2 separate regions of the Homo sapiens genome follow, and region 1 is linked to region 2. Evidence: fine-mapped QTL for protein levels in blood plasma. A gene starts in region 2. The other region holds a variant in brackets. All regions are shown on one strand. Distances are between the middles of the regions.

Region 1 (8,362 bases), 20 kb after region 2:
AATTTTAAAATCCTATAAAAACACAAAAACATTTATAAAGCTTATATGGTTTCTATTAATACCTGAAAAAAATAGAGGTTATAAGTAAATACATGCTCAACTACAGTGGAGGGAAAGAAACACCTGTATGTACAGAATAATTCTAATGATGCAAAACATATATATTACATATATTCAAATAGCAAAAAGTGTATGAAGCAATTATGCATTATAAATAGTTGGTTTTCCTTATGGTTGTAGAATTAGAGGTGAATTTTCTTTATGCTTTTCGTATTTTCCATATTTTTTGCAAAAAGCATGTGTTCTATTATGAGTCAAAAAGGTTTAAAGAATAAAAATTCTGTTAGCTAACTCTTTTTTCTGATACAATGGTCAGGACACACAGAAATAACCTAAATGCAGAATGAAAATGTGAAGACGGCAGGGCGCAGTGGCTCATTCCTATAATCACACCACTATGGGAGGCTGAGGCGGGTGGATCACCTGAGGTCAGGGGTTCGAGATCAGCCTGACCAATATGGTGAAACCTTGTCTCTACTAAAAGTACAAATTTTAGCCAGGCGTGGTGGTGGGCACCTGTAGTCCCAGTACTCAGGAGGATGAGACAGAAGAATTGCTTGAAACTGGGAGGTGGAGGTTACAGCAGTGAGCTGAGATGGCACCACTATACAACAACCTAGGCAACAGAGCAGGTGAGACTTTGTCTCAAAAAAAAAAAAAGAAAGAAAAGAAAAGGTAAAGATGAAGATTCTACCTGCCCAGTCTGCCCAGATAGTGTCAGGCCTCTGAGCCTAAGCTAAGCCATCATATCCCCTGAGACCTGCACATACACATCCAGATGGCCGGTTCCTGGCTTAACTGATGACATTCCACTACAAAAGAAATGAAAATGGCCTGTTCCTGCCTTAACTGATAGCATTATCTTGTGAAATTCCTTCTCCTGGCTCATCTTGGCTCAAAAGCTCCCCTACTGAGCACCTTGTGACCCCTACTCCTGCCTGCCAGAGAACAACCCCTCTTTTTCCTTTACGTACCTAAATCCTATAAAATGGCCCCACCCCATCTCCCTTCACTGACTCTTTTTGGACTCAGCCCACCTGCACCCAGGTGATTAAAAGATTTATTGCTCAGACAAAGCCTGTTTGGTGGTCTCTTCACACGGACACACATGAAATTTGCTGCCGTGACTCGGATCAGGGGAACTCCCTTGGGAGATCAATCCCTAGTCCTCCTGTTCTTTGCTCCGTGAGAAAGATCCACCTACGATCTCAGGTCCTCAGGCTGACCAGCCCAAGAAACATCTCACCAATTTCAAATCCCGTGAACAGCCTCTTTTTACACTCTTCTCCAACCTCCCTCACTATCCCTCAACCTCTTTCTCTGTTCAATCTTGGTGCCACACTTCAATCTCTCCCTTCTCTTAATTTCAATTCCTTTCATTTTCTGGTAGAGACAAAGGAGACATGTTTTATCCATGGACCCAAAACTCCAATGCCGGTCGTGGACTAAGAAAGGCAGCCTTCCCTTGGTGTTTAATCATTGTGGGGATGCCTCTCTGATTATTCACTCAGGTTTCAGAGGTGTCAGACCACGCAAGGACACCTGCCTTGGTCTTTCACCCTTAGCGGCAAGTCCCGCTTTTCTAGGGGAGGGGCAGGAACCCCGACCTCTTATCTCTGCACCCCGATCCCTTATTTCCATGCCCCAACCTCTTATTTCTGTGCCCCGATCCCTTATTTCCGTGCCCCGACCTCTTATCTCTGCGCCTCAACCCCTTATTTCCGTGCCCTGACCCCTTCTCTGCTTTTCTGGAGGGCAAGAACCCCCCAACCCTTCTCCATGTCTCTACTCTCTTTTCTCTGGGCTTGCCTCCTTCACTATGGGCAAGCTTCCACCTTCCATTCCTCCTTCTTCTTCCTTAGCCTGTGTTCTCAAGAGCTTAAAACCTCTTCAACTCTCACCTGACCTAAAATCTAAGCGTCTTATTTTCTTCTGCAATGCCGCTTGACCCCAATACAAACTCGACAGTACTTCCAAATAGCCAGAAAACAACACTTTCAATTTTTCCATCCTATAAGATCTAAATAATTCTTGTCGTAAAATAGGCAAACGGTCTGAGGTGCCTGATGTCCAGGCATTCTTTTACATATCGGTCCCTCCCTGGTCTCTGTTCCCAATGCAACTCGTCCCAAATCTTCCTTCTTTCCCTCCCGCCTGTCCCCTCAGTCCCAACCCCAAGCGTTGCTGAGTCTTTCCAGTCTTCCTTTTCTACAGACCCATCTGACCTTTCCCCTCCTCCCCAGGCTGCTTGTCACCAGGCCGAGCTAAGTCCCAATTCTTCCTCAGCCTCTGCTCCTCCACCCTATAATCCTTCTACCATCTCCCCTCCTCACAGCCGTTCCGGCATACAGTTTAGTTCTGTGACTAGTTCTTCCCCACCTGCCCAACAGTTTCCTCTTAGAGAGGTGGCTAGAGCTGAAGGCATAGTCAGGGTACATGTACCTTTTTCTCTATCACGCCTCTCTCAGATCAGTCAGTGTTTAGGCTCTTTCTCATCAGACCCCACTAAATGTATACAGGAATTCTGATATCTAACTCTGTCCTACAAGTTAACCTGGAGTGACTGAAATGTCATCCTAACTTCTACCCTCTCCCCAGATGAACGGGAAAGAGTTTTTTCTCTAGCCCAATCTCACGCTGATAACCGCCGGCTTCACGAGCCAGACCTCCAGGAAGGCATTAGAGCAGTTCCCCGAGAAGATCCCCAATGGAACTATCAGACAAATTCCCCAGGTATAGCTAGGTGAGATTACATGATTCCTGCCTACTTGAAAGGCTTAAAAAGGCAGCTTACAAAGCTGTTAATTATGACAAGCTTGAAGAGACTACCCAAGGTAGAGACGAAAACCCAGCCCAGTTCATGGCCGGCTTAGCAGCAACCTTTGGACGCTATACCGCCCTAGACCCAGAAGGGCCAGAAGGCCGCCTTATTCTTAACATGCATTTTATCATCCAATCCACTCCTGACATTAAGAAAAAACTTCAAAAATTAGAATCTAGCCCTCAAACCCCACAACAGGAATTAATCAATCTTGCCTTCAAGGTGTACAATAATAGAGAAGAAGCATCCAGACGGCAACGCGTTTCTGAGTTACAATTACTTGCCTCTGCTGTGAGACGAGACCCAGCCACACCTCCAGCATAGGAGAACTTCAAAATGCCTCAGCCGCACACGCCTAAGCCGCAGCAGTCAAGCATTCCTACAGGACTTCCTGCATCAGGATCTTGCTTCAAGTGCCAGAAATCTAGCCACTAGGCCAAGGAATGCCCACAGCCCAGGATTCCTCCTCAGCCGTATCCCATCTGTGTAGGACTCCACTGAAAATCAGACTCTTCAACTCACCTGGCAGCCACTCCCAGAGCCCCTGGAACTCCGGCCCAAGGCTCTCTGACTGACTCCTTCTCACATTTTCTCAGCTTAGCAGCTGAAGACTGACGCTGCCCGATCGCCTTGGAAGCCCCGTAGGCCATCACGGACGCCAAGCTTGAAGTAACTCTCAGAGTAGAAAGTAAGTCCGTCCCCGTCTTAATCAATACGGAGGCTACCCACTCCACATTACCTTCTTTCCAAAGGCCTGTTTCCTTTGCCTTCATAACTGTTGTAGGTATTGGCAGCCAGGCTTCTAAACCTCTTAAAACTCCCCAACTCTGGTGCCAACTTAGACAGTACTCTTTTAATCACTCCTTTTAGTTA[C/T]CCCCACCTGCCCAGTTCCCTTATTAGGCCGAGACACTTTAACTAAATTATCTGCTTCCCTGACTATTCCTGGGCTACAGCCACACCTCATTGCCGCCTTTTCCCCCAGTTCAAAGCCTCCTTCACATCCTCCCCTTGTATCTCCCCACCGTAACCCATAAGTATAAGACACCTCTACTCCCTCCTTAGCGACCGATCATGCACCCCTTACCATCCCATTAAAACCTAATCACCCTTACCCCAATCAATGCCAATATCCCATCCCGCAGCATGCTTTGAAAAGATTAAAGCCTGTTATCACTCGCCTGTTACAGCAAGGCCTTTTAAAGCCTATAAACTCTTCTTACCATTCCCCCATTTTACCTGTCCTAAAACCAGACAAGGCTTACAGGTTAGTTCAGAATCTGCGCCTTATCAACCAAATTGTTTTGCCTAGCCACCCCATGGTGCTAAACCCATATACTCTCCTATCCTCAATACCTCCCTCTACAATCCATTATTCTGTTCTGGATCTCAAACATGCTTTCTTTACTATTCCTTTGCACCCTTCATCCCAGCCTCTCTTTGTTTTCACTTAGACTAACCCTGACACCCATTAGGCTCAGCAAATCACCTGGGCTGTACTGCCGCAAGGCTTCACAGACAGCCCGCATTAGTTCAATCAAGCCCAAATTTCATCCTCATCTCTTACCTATCTCGGCATAATTCTCATAAAAACACACATGCTTTCCCTGCTGATCGTGACCGATTAATCTCCCAAACCTCAATCCCTTACAAAACAACAACTCCTTTCCTTCCTAGGCATGGTTAGTTCGGTCAGAATTCTTACACAAGAGCCGGGACCGCACCCTGTAGCCTTTCTGTCCAAACAACTTGACCTTACTGTTTTAGCCTAGCCCTCCTGTCTGCATGCAGCAGCTGCCGCTGCTTTAATACTTTTAGAGGCCCTAAAAATCACAAACTATGCTCAACTCACTCTCTACATTTCTCGTAACTTCCAAAACCGATTTTCTTCCTCATACCTGACGCATATGCTTTCTGTTCCCCGGCTCCTTCAGCTGTACTCGTTCTTTGTTAAGTCCCACAATTACCATTGTTCCTGGCCCGGACGTCAATCCGGCCTCCCACATTATTCCTGATACCACACCTGACCCCCATGACTGTATCTCTCTGATCCACCTGACATTCACCCCATTTCCCCATATTTTCTCCTTTCCTGTTCCTCACCCTGATCACGCTTGATTTATTGATGGCAGTTCCACCAGGCCTAATCGCCACACACCAGCAAAGGCAGGCTATGCTATGGTACAAGCCACTAGCCCGCCTCTTAGAACCTCTCATTTCCTTTCCATCGTGGAAATGTATCCTCAAGGAAATAACTTCTCAGTGTTCCATCTGCTATTCTACTACTCCTCAGGGATTATTCAGGCCCCCTCCCTTCCCTACACATCAAGCTCAGAGATTTGCCCCCACCCAGGACTGGCAAATTAGCTTTACTCAACATGCCCCGAGTCAGATAACTAAAATACCTCTTGGTCTAGGTAGACACTTTCACTGGATAGGTAGAGGCCTTTCCCACAGGGTCTAAGAAGGCCAACACAGTCATTTCTTCCCTTCTGTCAGACACAATTACTCGGTTTGGCCTTCCCACCTCTATACAGTCCGATAGCAGACCGGCCTTTATTAGTCAAATCAGCCAAGCAGTTTTTCAGGCTCTTAGTATTCAATGAAACCTTTATATCCCTTACAGTCCTCAGTCTTCAGGAAAAGTAGAATGGACTAATTGTCTTTTAAAACCTCAGCCACCAACTTAAAAAGGGCTAGAAAAACTTTTACCTCTTTCTTTTCTCAGAAGTCAGGCCTGTCCTCAGAATGCTACAAGGTACAGCCCATTTGAGCTCCTGTATAGAGGCTCCTTTTTATTAAGCCCCAGTCTCATTCCAGACACCAGACCAACTTAGACTGTGCCCCAAAAAACTTGTCATCCCTACTATCTTCTCTCTAGTCATACTCCTATTCACTGTTCTCAACTACTCATACATGTCCTGCTCTTGTTTACACTGCCAGTTTACACTGTTTCTCCAAGCCATCACAGCTGATATCTCCTGGTGGTATCCCCAAACTGCCATTCTTGAAGTAAATAAATAATCTTTGCTGGCAGGACTACGCTGAATCTCCTTAGGCACTCTAATTAGATGTCCTAGGTCTTCCCAATTCTTAGACCTTTAATACCTGTTTTTCTCCTTCTCTTATTCCATTTAGTTTCTCAGTTCATACAAAACCATATCCAGGCAATCATCAATAATTCTAAATGACAAATGTTTCCTCTAACAGTCCCACAATATCACCCCTTACCACAAAATCTTCCTTCAGCTTAATCTCTCCCACTCTAGGTTCCCACGCCGCCCCTAATCCCACTCGAAGCAGCCCTGAGAAACATCGCCCATTATCTCTCCATACCATCCCCCAAAATTTTTGCCATCCCAACACTTTACCACTATTTCATTTTATTTTTCTTATTAATATAAGAAGACAGGAATGTCAGGCCTCTGAGCCCAAGCTAAGCCATCATATCCCCTGTGACCTGCACATGCACATCCAGATGGCCGGTTCCTGCCTTAACTGATGACATTCCACTACAAAAGAAATGAAAATGGCCTGTTCCTGCCTTAACTGATGGCATTATCTTGTGAAATTCTTTCTCCTGGCTCATCCTGGCTTAAAAGCTCCCCTACTGAGCACCTTGTGACCCCTACTCCTGCCTGCCAGAGAACAACCCCCCTTTTTCCTTTACCTACCCAAATCCGATAAAACGTCCCCACCCCATCTCCCTTCTCTGACTGTCTTTTTGGACTCAGCCCGCCGGCACCCAGGTGATTAAAAGCTTTATTGCTCACACAAAGCCTGTTTGGTGGTCTCTTCACACGGACGCGCATGAAAGATACCATCTGTGTAAAGTCAGCACTTCCATCTGAGGCCACTCTCTAGTTCCCATAATGCTAATAGGAACCATCCCCAAAGCCAAATATCACTTACTGGATCAGAGTTCTCAGGACAGAATGTCTCTCTTACTACCATTCAGCTTCCTCCCAACCATTACCATCCCAGCACCCTTAATGTGCTCTCTCCCCTGAAGCTGCTCCAGTTGCTAGAATGGCATCATTAGTACTGTATCACTCTTTAAGATTCAGTAAAGCAACAGGAAGAGGATGCATGACTCCCTGAGGTACTCTGTAGTCTCAGCAGAACAGCACTGTAGGAAAATTATATTCCTGTTCTTGATGCCTCTTCCCATCCCCTCAACATTCCCATTCCTTTCCCTACACCAGCATTTGGTTCACCCAGGACACCCCATTTAGGGTGCAGCCAATATAGCCATAATAGAAAAACTTCATTAAGGAGCTCAACTCATAATAACAAAAACTCAAAATAGTTTTTGTTTTAATCAATAGCTTTCCCCTTCCCCACTGGGTTGGAGCCTCTTAACACCTTGACCAGATTCCATACATTCCTGTCATTTTCTGTTGCACTGGACTGGTCCCATTGGGTATTTAAAAGCCAGGGTTACTGACATTAAAAGTTCAATTGCAAACATTATTCAAAACCTGTTGCACTCATTAACCCTGTGACTTGTGGAAATGAGATCTACTTTTCATACACCTCCCTTTTCTTTCTGTCTTCAAATCCTTTCCCTCTCTTCAGTTCACTCTAGAATCCCAGTAATTCTCAACCTTGACTGCACACACTGGATTACCTAGGAGTTTAAAAACTACCAATACCAAAGTCCACTCCCAGAGATTCTGATTAAATTGTCCTGGAGGAGTCCTTGACATCAGGACTTTTTAAAGCTCCTGGGGTGATTCTAACATGAAGCCGAGTCTGAGAGACATGACTGCAGACTCTCACAGACACTCACTGCGGATAGAACAGGGAGGAATGGAGATGCTGCCTAACTGGCTGTTTCTTGGCAGTGAGGACGGAACCTAGGCTGATTCCCTCTGGTCCCTTCTGATGCTGCTGGCTCTGCTGGTCTGAGGGTTGCATATAGGTATACGGGTTTCTTCTGAAGTGTGAAGGTAGGGGGTCAGCTGTATCATAGCCCAGTCCCCCCCTGCTGATCCCTTCTAACAGTGGGATGGGCATCCAACTATTTGACTCTTACTCTCACCACCATCCTCTTCCACGTGAATCAATTCTTTTTGCAGGGAATTGGGGTGGCATGAGGTGTCCCCAACTTCTTTGCAGGCACACTAATAATAAATAGCATCACTTATTCAGCATCTACTCTATGCCAAGAATTATACTGGTTGCTTTCTTTTTTTCTTTCTTTCTTTTTTAGATGGAATCTCACACTGTCGCCCGAGCTGGAGTGCAGTGGCGCGATCTCAGCTCACTGCAATCTCCGCCTCCCGGGTTCAAGTGATTCTCCTGCCTCAGCCTCCCAAGTAGCGGCGATTACAGGCATGTGCCACCATGCCCAGCTAATTTTTTGTATTTTTAGTAGAGACAGGGTTTCACCATGTTGGCCAGGCTGGTCTCAATCTCCTGACCTTGTGATCAGCCTGCCTTGGCCTCCCAAAGTGCTGGGATTACAGGCATGAGCCACCG
Region 2 (8,362 bases):
AGAGGGAGATTCCAAACATAGGATACTTCAGGAAGGAGTCAAGGAGAAACTGCCACAAGGTAGCCCTGAGGCTAGCAGGTGGTTTGGGAGCAGCAAATACTATCCCAATGACAGAGGAGACAGCTGCGAAAGTTGCAAGGACATAGAAAGTAAACGACGTGATTTACAGTTTTCGCCTTTACAGCTCCTGCAGGAAAAGTGAACGCTCTGTTAAATACGCTCCCTGCCTTGTGCCTCAGGCATACTCTGTTCTTCCTTCAAGCTCCAGAGTGAATGTTACCCCCTCTAGGAAGCCTGTCTTGACTTCCCCAGTAGAACTAGTTTCTCCCCTTGGTGCGTTCCTAGCATCCACTCCTTGAGGGCAAGAACCATGCCTTCTTCTCTGAAGCCACATAGGTTGGATGCAAACCCTGGCTGTAAGACCTCAGGCAGGCAATGTAACCTTTCTGTTCCTCAGCCTCCTTATCTGTACAATGGGAATAATAGTGGCACCTACAGGCCTCGGTTGGTCATGGGCTTACATGAGAGAAGGAACACAGAGTGTTTAGCACAGGGCTGGGCACACACTGAGAAATATCAGTTTCATATATAGTGCCGGGCTTTGGCAGTGGTTGGAGGAGATGTTCATTCAGTGTTTGTGGAAGGAAGAAAAGATAAAGGGAGGAAAGGGAAGAGAGAGAGAAACACAGCAACTAGCTGTAGAGACCATCATGTACCAGGCAGCTCCCACCTGGTATTTTGGAGCCATGGCTGCCGTCCAGTTTTGCTAAGTACACATCCTGTCCCCTTAGGCCAAGACTTGGTACCTAGATTTCTAATTCCCCAGATGCCTAATCACGTGTGCTGTGTCTCTCTCAGCTCTGCAGCCAACAATGTCTCACCTGTCTGATCTCTCCCTGTTCTCAAATCAATAATCCTAAGTCACTGCCCTGGATCACACCTGTGTCAGGAGGTGGGCAGGCCAGGGAGCCCCCTGCCTCTCCCTCCTCACTCAGGGAAAATCAGCCTTGTTTCTCCCAACCTGGTTCACCTGGCGATGCATCCATTCAAGTGTAACCAGAAAAAGGCCACTGGCAGAGTCACATAAGAATCTGCACCGTGGGAGACAAAGTGAGGACCACAGGGTACAGTCACAGCACTGACAGCTGTCCTTGGACATTGTCTCTGGACGTCCTGTGCACCAGGGCTGTGCTAAGCACCTTTGCATACTTCCCCTGTGATAAGTCCATATTGCAACCTCAGGAGATGGAGAATCCTGCTACCTTCCTTTTACATGGGAGGAGCCTGAGGCTCCCAAGAGCTAGACCTGGGCTGTCTGATAAGGTACCCACATGCAACTCTTGAGCGTCTTAACTGTGGCTACTCCAAATTGGGGTATGCCATAGTGTGAAACAAAGAATGTAAACTGTGCCTTTCATAATTTTTATGTTAATCACATATTGAAATTATAATATTTTGGATTGACAGGTTAAGCAAAATATTGTTAAAATTAATATCATCTGTTTCTTTTTACTTTTCGAATGCAGATACCAGAAATTTTAAAATTAAATATGTAACTTGCATTGTATTTCTATTAGACACACTGGATTCAACAAAACCTAGATTGATCTATCTCCACAGCCTTGTTCTTCACTCCTGAGCAGAAATTTAACTTCCATGCTGATACTAAAGTTGTTCCCATATGTGATGGGAACCAAACACAAGTGTACCTGGGTTGGGCTTCTAGGGAAAGAGGAACTCTATTCTCTTTCTACAGGCAGGTGCAACTGTGCATGTATACATATGCTGGGAGTGCCATTGTTTTATGAATAAGGAAACAAAATGCTGTGTGGCACACCCAGTGTCACAGGCCCTCTTACCGTGCAGTGGAAGAGGTGGAATTTAAACCCAAGACTGCCTGACACCAAAGGCTGGACTCTTCCCCTGCTTCCTCTCCCAGGGCTCCCATACTCCACAGCCTAGGAGAAGGCCAGCTCAGGTTGTTTGAGACTGGGTTGAAACCCAGGTGCATAAGTGGTGGTGCACGATTTCCATGTTATTGGATCTTTTTATCTGTTTGAGTCCTGCCTTTTATTTTAGTTGCACTCATGGCCTTCACCTATATAAGTCTAATATATTCCTCAGGTCCCAGACCATTCTCCTCCTCTTTGTTCTGCATCCTCAGGCCCCAGATCCTTCTCAACCTCTTTCTGTACGTTGCTCAAGCTCAATGAATGTTTGTCTCCTCACTGGCTGAAGCTAAACCTTTGTTGTGCCCCAGAATCTGAATGTCTGGTTTCTGTACCCATTTTGCTAGTATCGTTCCTATTTGAAAACAATGCCTACAGCCCACATCCACAGAGCTGGGATCTTTAGATTTGGGTTTTTCAATCAATCCTCAAAAACTATTTCTCTCCAGAAATTAATTAGGGCTGTGCCTCAGTTAGTTTTATGTAGTTATAACAGAATATCAGAGACCAGGGAATTTATAATGAACAGAAATTACTTTGGCTCATGGTTTGGGGGGCTGGGAAGTCTAAGATCGAGGGGCTATACCTGCTGAGAGCCTTCATGCTACATCATAACATGGTGGAAGGCATCACACAGGTGAAAGGAAGAGAGAAGGGGACCAAACACATCCTTTTATCAGGAACTCACTTTCAAGATAATGGCATATTCCATTCATGAGGGTGGAGCCCTCATCAGGATAGGATAATCCTCTCAGCATTACACAATAGCCACCACTGTGTACCAGCAAGCACACAGAAGGATTCAGCAGTTCCTAAACTTATTTGAATGCAGAATCCTTGGACAGGGACAGGAAGGAAGAGAAGGGCTAGGAGTAGGGAGAGAGTTAGGGGGTGGTTACTCACCTCATGGACTAGGGCTTTATAGAATGCCCTTCATGATAACCTCTTCTAGAGGCTTCTTTCCCATTTTGTCTCTTTTCTCTCATGACAAACTACTGCTGATATGTGTTTTTTGTTGAAATACAGTTTTTAAAAGATAATTGTCTTTTGTATGGTCCCAATAAGTAGAACCTTTCTGAATCACAAATAGAAGCTAAAAAAAAAAAAAAAAAAAGAAGGCAAGAGTCCCAACCAATGTGTTGCCACCCACCTGCCCTTCAGTATCTTTCTTTTAGCAAGAGTATGGGGCTTTAGTCTCTTAATGAGCTTGCTTCCATACATATGCATAAAAGGAAGAATAGGCTTGAAATACAATGTGAGAACTTTTTATATCTCTTTGACTTTTTCCCCTTAAGTAAAGTCATTGTTTAAAAATAACTTAAATGATGATAAGTAGAACATTTTCCACCCAGATGGCCAAAGTGCTTAAGGAATCTCAACTGTGCTTCTGGCAGATGACTGTGGGGTTCAACTACCTCCCTGATCTAACAAGGGCTTTGCACACAGAGTGTCAGCCAGGAAGTCTGAATTCACCAAGCACCACTGGGACATAAGATAACTATTAGAGTGGCCAAGGAGACCTCCACAGCAAAGGTGTTAGGGGAGAGGGGGAGAATGGGACAGTCCTCCATATTCCTATTCAGGAGGGGACCTGCAAATCAGAATCTAATCATAAGAGCCTTGAACAAATGTTATGATTTCTCAGGAAACAGTTGGGAAACTTAAATTCATTTGTATGTACAGGTGGATATGAGGTTGCTCAAGGGTCTAAGGTTAGAATCATTGGGAAATGCTATCCAAAGTACTGACTTAGGAAAATCCAAGTTCAGAATTCAAGGTGAACTTGGTTAGCCCTTCCAGTTGTAACAAAACCGCTCAAGTCTGCCTTAAAGAGCCTTACAAGCCAGCCAGTCCCTGCAGCTCCACAAACTGACCCATCCTGGGCCTTGTTCTCCACAGAATGGGTCTGCTCCTTCCCCTGGCACTCTGCATCCTAGTCCTGTGCTGCGGAGCAATGTCTCCACCCCAGCTGGCCCTCAACCCCTCGGCTCTGCTCTCCCGGGGCTGCAATGACTCAGATGTGCTGGCAGTTGCAGGCTTTGCCCTGCGGGATATTAACAAAGACAGAAAGGATGGCTATGTGCTGAGACTCAACCGAGTGAACGACGCCCAGGAATACAGACGGGCAAGTAGGGACAGTTCCCACTCTGGGGCAGGGATGTGGGCAAGCTGGAGAGACTGGCCAGGGTGAGGGAACCCAGAGACACCCTGGCAGGTGTTTTCTGTATTGGAAGCCCTGCCGAGAACTCTCTGTTCTCCTCTGCCAGGGTCAGCAACAACGCACTTATTGTTAGTAAAAACAAGTGTTAACAGTGATCCTACTCTGACACTTGTGTCAGATTTAATGGTTTACGGGGAATCTTCACAAATATTCTTTGGCTTTGCCATAAAGCAGGGGTTTTTTTGTGTGGTCTTTCTAGGTTTCTACTTCCTGTGAAATGTATTGCATTTCTCTACCCCTTCCCACAGGGTGGCCTGGGATCTCTGTTCTATCTTACACTGGATGTGCTAGAGACTGACTGCCATGTGCTCAGAAAGAAGGCATGGCAAGACTGTGGAATGAGGATATTTTTTGAATCAGTGAGTGCTTGTTTTTATAAACCATTAAGGGCCCTAGGGAAAGCAAGTAGGTACACTCTTTCTACAGGGTCAAGGGTGCTCAATATCTGTCATCTTTTAAATGGCCCACTTTATAATCTCCTGGCAGGTGCCCATAAGCTTATTCTAATGCTCTAGACAGAACAAAGTTTAATTCATGAGAGGGGTTTCTGAGAAGTCCCATTGGGGTCATGCAGAACAGAATGGAAAAGTTGCCCCAAGTTGTGTTTTTACCTCCAAGACCTTCCGTTAGGCTCTGAACCAGTGTTTCAATTGTGAGAAAAAGACCTGAGGTGTGAATATTCTGGACGTGGGGTTAATGTAGACTGCAGAAGTGATGGAGGTAGAGCTTTGTCTATTTGTTTTATTTTGCTTTGTTTCAATAAACTCCGATGCCAGGTTTGAGGGGAGGAAAATGGATGACTTGCAGTATGAAAGCTCTCAAGGGCGCCGTGTAAGGATTTCCTGAAACCACAGAGCATAATAAAGGGCCTCAGAATTAATCTTCTAAAGATGATCATAGAAGAGACTTGAAAATAGATAATCCATTTCATTTCATTCTTAATTATCCTGGGATGATTTTCAGTAATTGATATAAAACTTTACAGTGTGAGTACAGAATAGTGATGTAAGTGTTTAGAAGAAAACTATTTGATCAAGATATTTTCCTAATCATGTAGCCAATTGGTCAAACTGTACCCAACTTGATTTTGAAAAGTGAATATCCTGTTGTGAATTATATTTGTTATGGTGACACTAGCTACTAAAACACAGACACAAAAACTGTATACTCACTCTAACATGATAGAAGTTCATTTCTCACGCATGTAAAGTTGAAAGTAGAAGTTCCTGATTAGATGGGTGCTTTGCTCCAGGGGTGATTTGAGACCCAAGTTTATTCCACACTCTGGCTCTAGACTCTGCAGCCTCAGCTCACGACTTCCATGGTTACCTGCTCATCTGCATCAAGCTGTGCACAGAGAAAGAGCATAGAGGACAGTGAGAACGTGGGAGACCCTTATGAGCCAGATCTGGAAATGGTTACACCTCACTTCTGCTCACCTTCCTGTGGTTAGAACTCAATTATACACAGTCACACGTGTTGGGGAGGCTTGGAAACATATTCTAGCTGTGTCCTAGGGAAAGGTTAAACAGTTTGATCATCAACTGCAGTTCCTCCCAGCCAAAACCACAGAATTTGATCTTAAGTTTCTAACTACTTTAAAAGAAAATGTCTGACTTTAATTTTGGAGGTATTTTAAAAGCTCATAGTTGCATTCGCTATGTCATAAAATGCATTTGTTGGTTTCAGGTTTATGGTCAATGCAAAGCAATATTTTATATGAACAACCCAAGTAGAGTTCTCTATTTAGCTGCTTATAACTGTACTCTTCGCCCAGGTAAGAAATCACTACGATTTTGTTAGTTTTAATAAAGGATGGAAAAGAGTACTTAACCAGGTCTTTGCCAAGAATGTATAGGGTATCTCTCATTCTTATTTTCTGTTTATTCTTAATGCCAGTTTCTTAATATTTCCAGTACTTACCTCCTTACTGAAATTCATACTATACTGCTCCTCTTCCCACAATTAATCTTACTAAACTACCTCTACATTTATATGCTGCATCAGATCTTACATTTTCAGTCTGACATAAATGGTATAATTTCTATGACTGTTCCCTCAGGCTTCCTTTCTTGCTATCTCTGCCATTATTTCCCAGACTACACCAACTCTTCACTCCATTCTACTGGATGCCACCCTGTTTTCTGAACATGCACTGCAATTTCCAGTCTCTGTGTCTTGCTTGTGCCTCTCCCTCTGCTGAGCATGCCCTCCCCTGATGACCTCTGACCTTGGGACACACCTATTCTTTAAGGACCAACACCACTTCTTCCACAGTGTTCTCTATTCTAGAAAGGAATGGTGCTTTTGTAATCTGCATTCCTATAAAATTTTGTCTAAACTACTCAGGGAACACATAATGCACTGCCTTGATTTGAGGGTCGCATATCTTACATCATGTAGAATAGTTTCTCCTTTCCTCCTCCTGCTGCACCCTTCCTCAGTTCCCACCAAGTAGAAGGTGTCAATAATGTTGTTAAGTAAATAATTGGACTAGAAATGAGGCTGAAACTTAATGACACTTGAAATATGCACATGCATTCATTTGGGACCTTCCTTTTTTCAAGGGAAGGTCTTTGGAAAGAGAGCATCCACAGTGCAGGAAAACAGAATTTGGTCCCCTGTCGAACAACTACGTGCGTGTCGCTCCCCTGGTGGATCCTGTGCAAGTGTAGATTCTGATTCCACAGGTCTTGGTCAGGACCTGAGATCCTGCATCTCTAATAAGCTCCAGGAGATAAGAATGCTGCTGGTTGCTTTGAATAACAAGGCAAGCGAGCAAACATTTTGTTAGGCACAGTTTAAGGTTCCTGGTTGTGAAGGCAAGATTCACAGAACAGCAAGTAGTAAACAGTCTCAGGACTTAAATGGAAGTCATAAGTATCAGAGCTATGGGAGGTCAGGAAGTGACAGGTGGTGATGATTCAGGAGTGACAAGCTGTAGCTGGAAGTCCCCCATTATCTCCACCAGTCCCCAAGTGCATGCAGATAAACACAAAATTTCTAAAAACAATGTGTTTGCTCTGCAAAAGCAGCTTCAAGATAAATTCTGTACCTTGACTTTCACACTAGGCTTATTGACCTCAGCTCCTCCCAAACAGAAATCTGACTGTACTTAATGTGATCATTCTACTCAGTCACACAGTGACTTGACCCATTTTGTTTTCTGGCTCACTTGCATTTTTCTTCTTAAAAAAATATTTAGTCTTATTTTTTATTGATAAATAATAGTTATACCTATTTATGGCATATATAGTGATATTTCCATATATATACTGTATTGTGATCGGATTAGGTTATTAGTATATCCATCATCTCAAACCTTTATCACTTCCTTGTGTCGGGAACATTCAATACCCTTCTAGCTATTTGAAATTTTATCTTATTGTTAACTGTAGTCATCCTACAGTGGTCCAGAACACTAGAATTTATCCCCCTATCTAGCTGTAATTTTGTATCCTTTGACAGATCTCACTTGCATTTCTAACCAAACGGGGTGCGCTTCTGCCTTCTACTATGCCATTCACTTATCCATTCATTCTACAAGCATTTACTAAGCACTGCCTATGTATCAGATATGATGTTCGGTGTTAGGAACTGAAAGGTAAATAAGATATTGCGGTAATGAAATCCCAATCTCTGAAGACAGTCTACTTTACAGGGTCAATAATGAGAAAAGATAGTGAACTAGTTGGAGGAAAAGGTCCTATTTTAATATACTATATTATGTGTCTTTGAACAAAATTCTCAGAGTAAATGTGTGTGAGGTGAAAACTTTGCTTTGTTCTGGTCTCTTTTTTAATTGTGAAAGTAATACATGGTCATTACAGAAAACACTGCTGACAGCTAACTTCTATTCCAGGGGTATATTCCAGAGGTAACTTCCTCACCCCATCCTTGCCTCTTTACAGTCATATGATTTATTGAAAATTAATAGCATTTAAAAACTTATGTTATTGGCATCAACAGTTTCAAAAAAAAAGATTTACATGACGTGCCCTGACTGCCCAAGCTCCATACCCACTGACTCTTCCAATCACCAAGTGCTGGAGGCTGCCACCGAGTCTCTTGCGAAATACAACAATGAGAACACATCCAAGCAGTATTCTCTCTTCAAAGTCACCAGGGCTTCTAGCCAGGTAAGGCTAAAACTGCCCAAGCCAGTTACACAGTGTGTCTCATAACTGTTGCT

Direction of the effects. Positions count from the first base shown, and alleles are read on the strand shown. Strength reflects both the effect of a copy and how common the allele is.
As copies of C replace T in region 1, the plasma level of the protein whose gene starts at base 3,788 in region 2 goes down (strong association).

Evidence for each region. PIP is the posterior inclusion probability: the model's chance that the variant is causal. Protein levels are from antibody-based Olink assays in UK Biobank. Linkage for the fine-mapping came from a reference panel and not from the study's own genotypes, which makes the PIPs less certain.
Region 1: its variant is fine-mapped to the plasma level of the FETUB protein (UK Biobank, PIP above 0.99).

Annotation. Positions count from the first base shown.
Region 1 is chr3:186,656,999-186,665,360 of GRCh38, forward strand. All of the region lies in intron 1 of HRG-AS1 (HRG and FETUB antisense RNA 1), which reads right to left. Among named protein-coding and RNA genes, the nearest start is that of HRG-AS1, 4.5 kb to the right of the region's middle. RefSeq lists enhancers at 629-1,148, 6,151-6,831. The variant C/T (reference allele first, on the strand shown) is at 3,755.
Region 2 is chr3:186,636,612-186,644,973 of GRCh38, forward strand. FETUB (fetuin B) reads left to right here and starts at 3,788. Exons shown (of 7, transcript NM_014375.3): 1 at 3,788-4,074; 2 at 4,419-4,529; 3 at 5,860-5,947; 4 at 8,140-8,309. The coding sequence starts at 3,850. It overlaps HRG-AS1 (HRG and FETUB antisense RNA 1), which reads right to left. Exons shown (of 3, transcript NR_187317.1): 2 at 5,343-5,517; 3 at 4,898-5,012.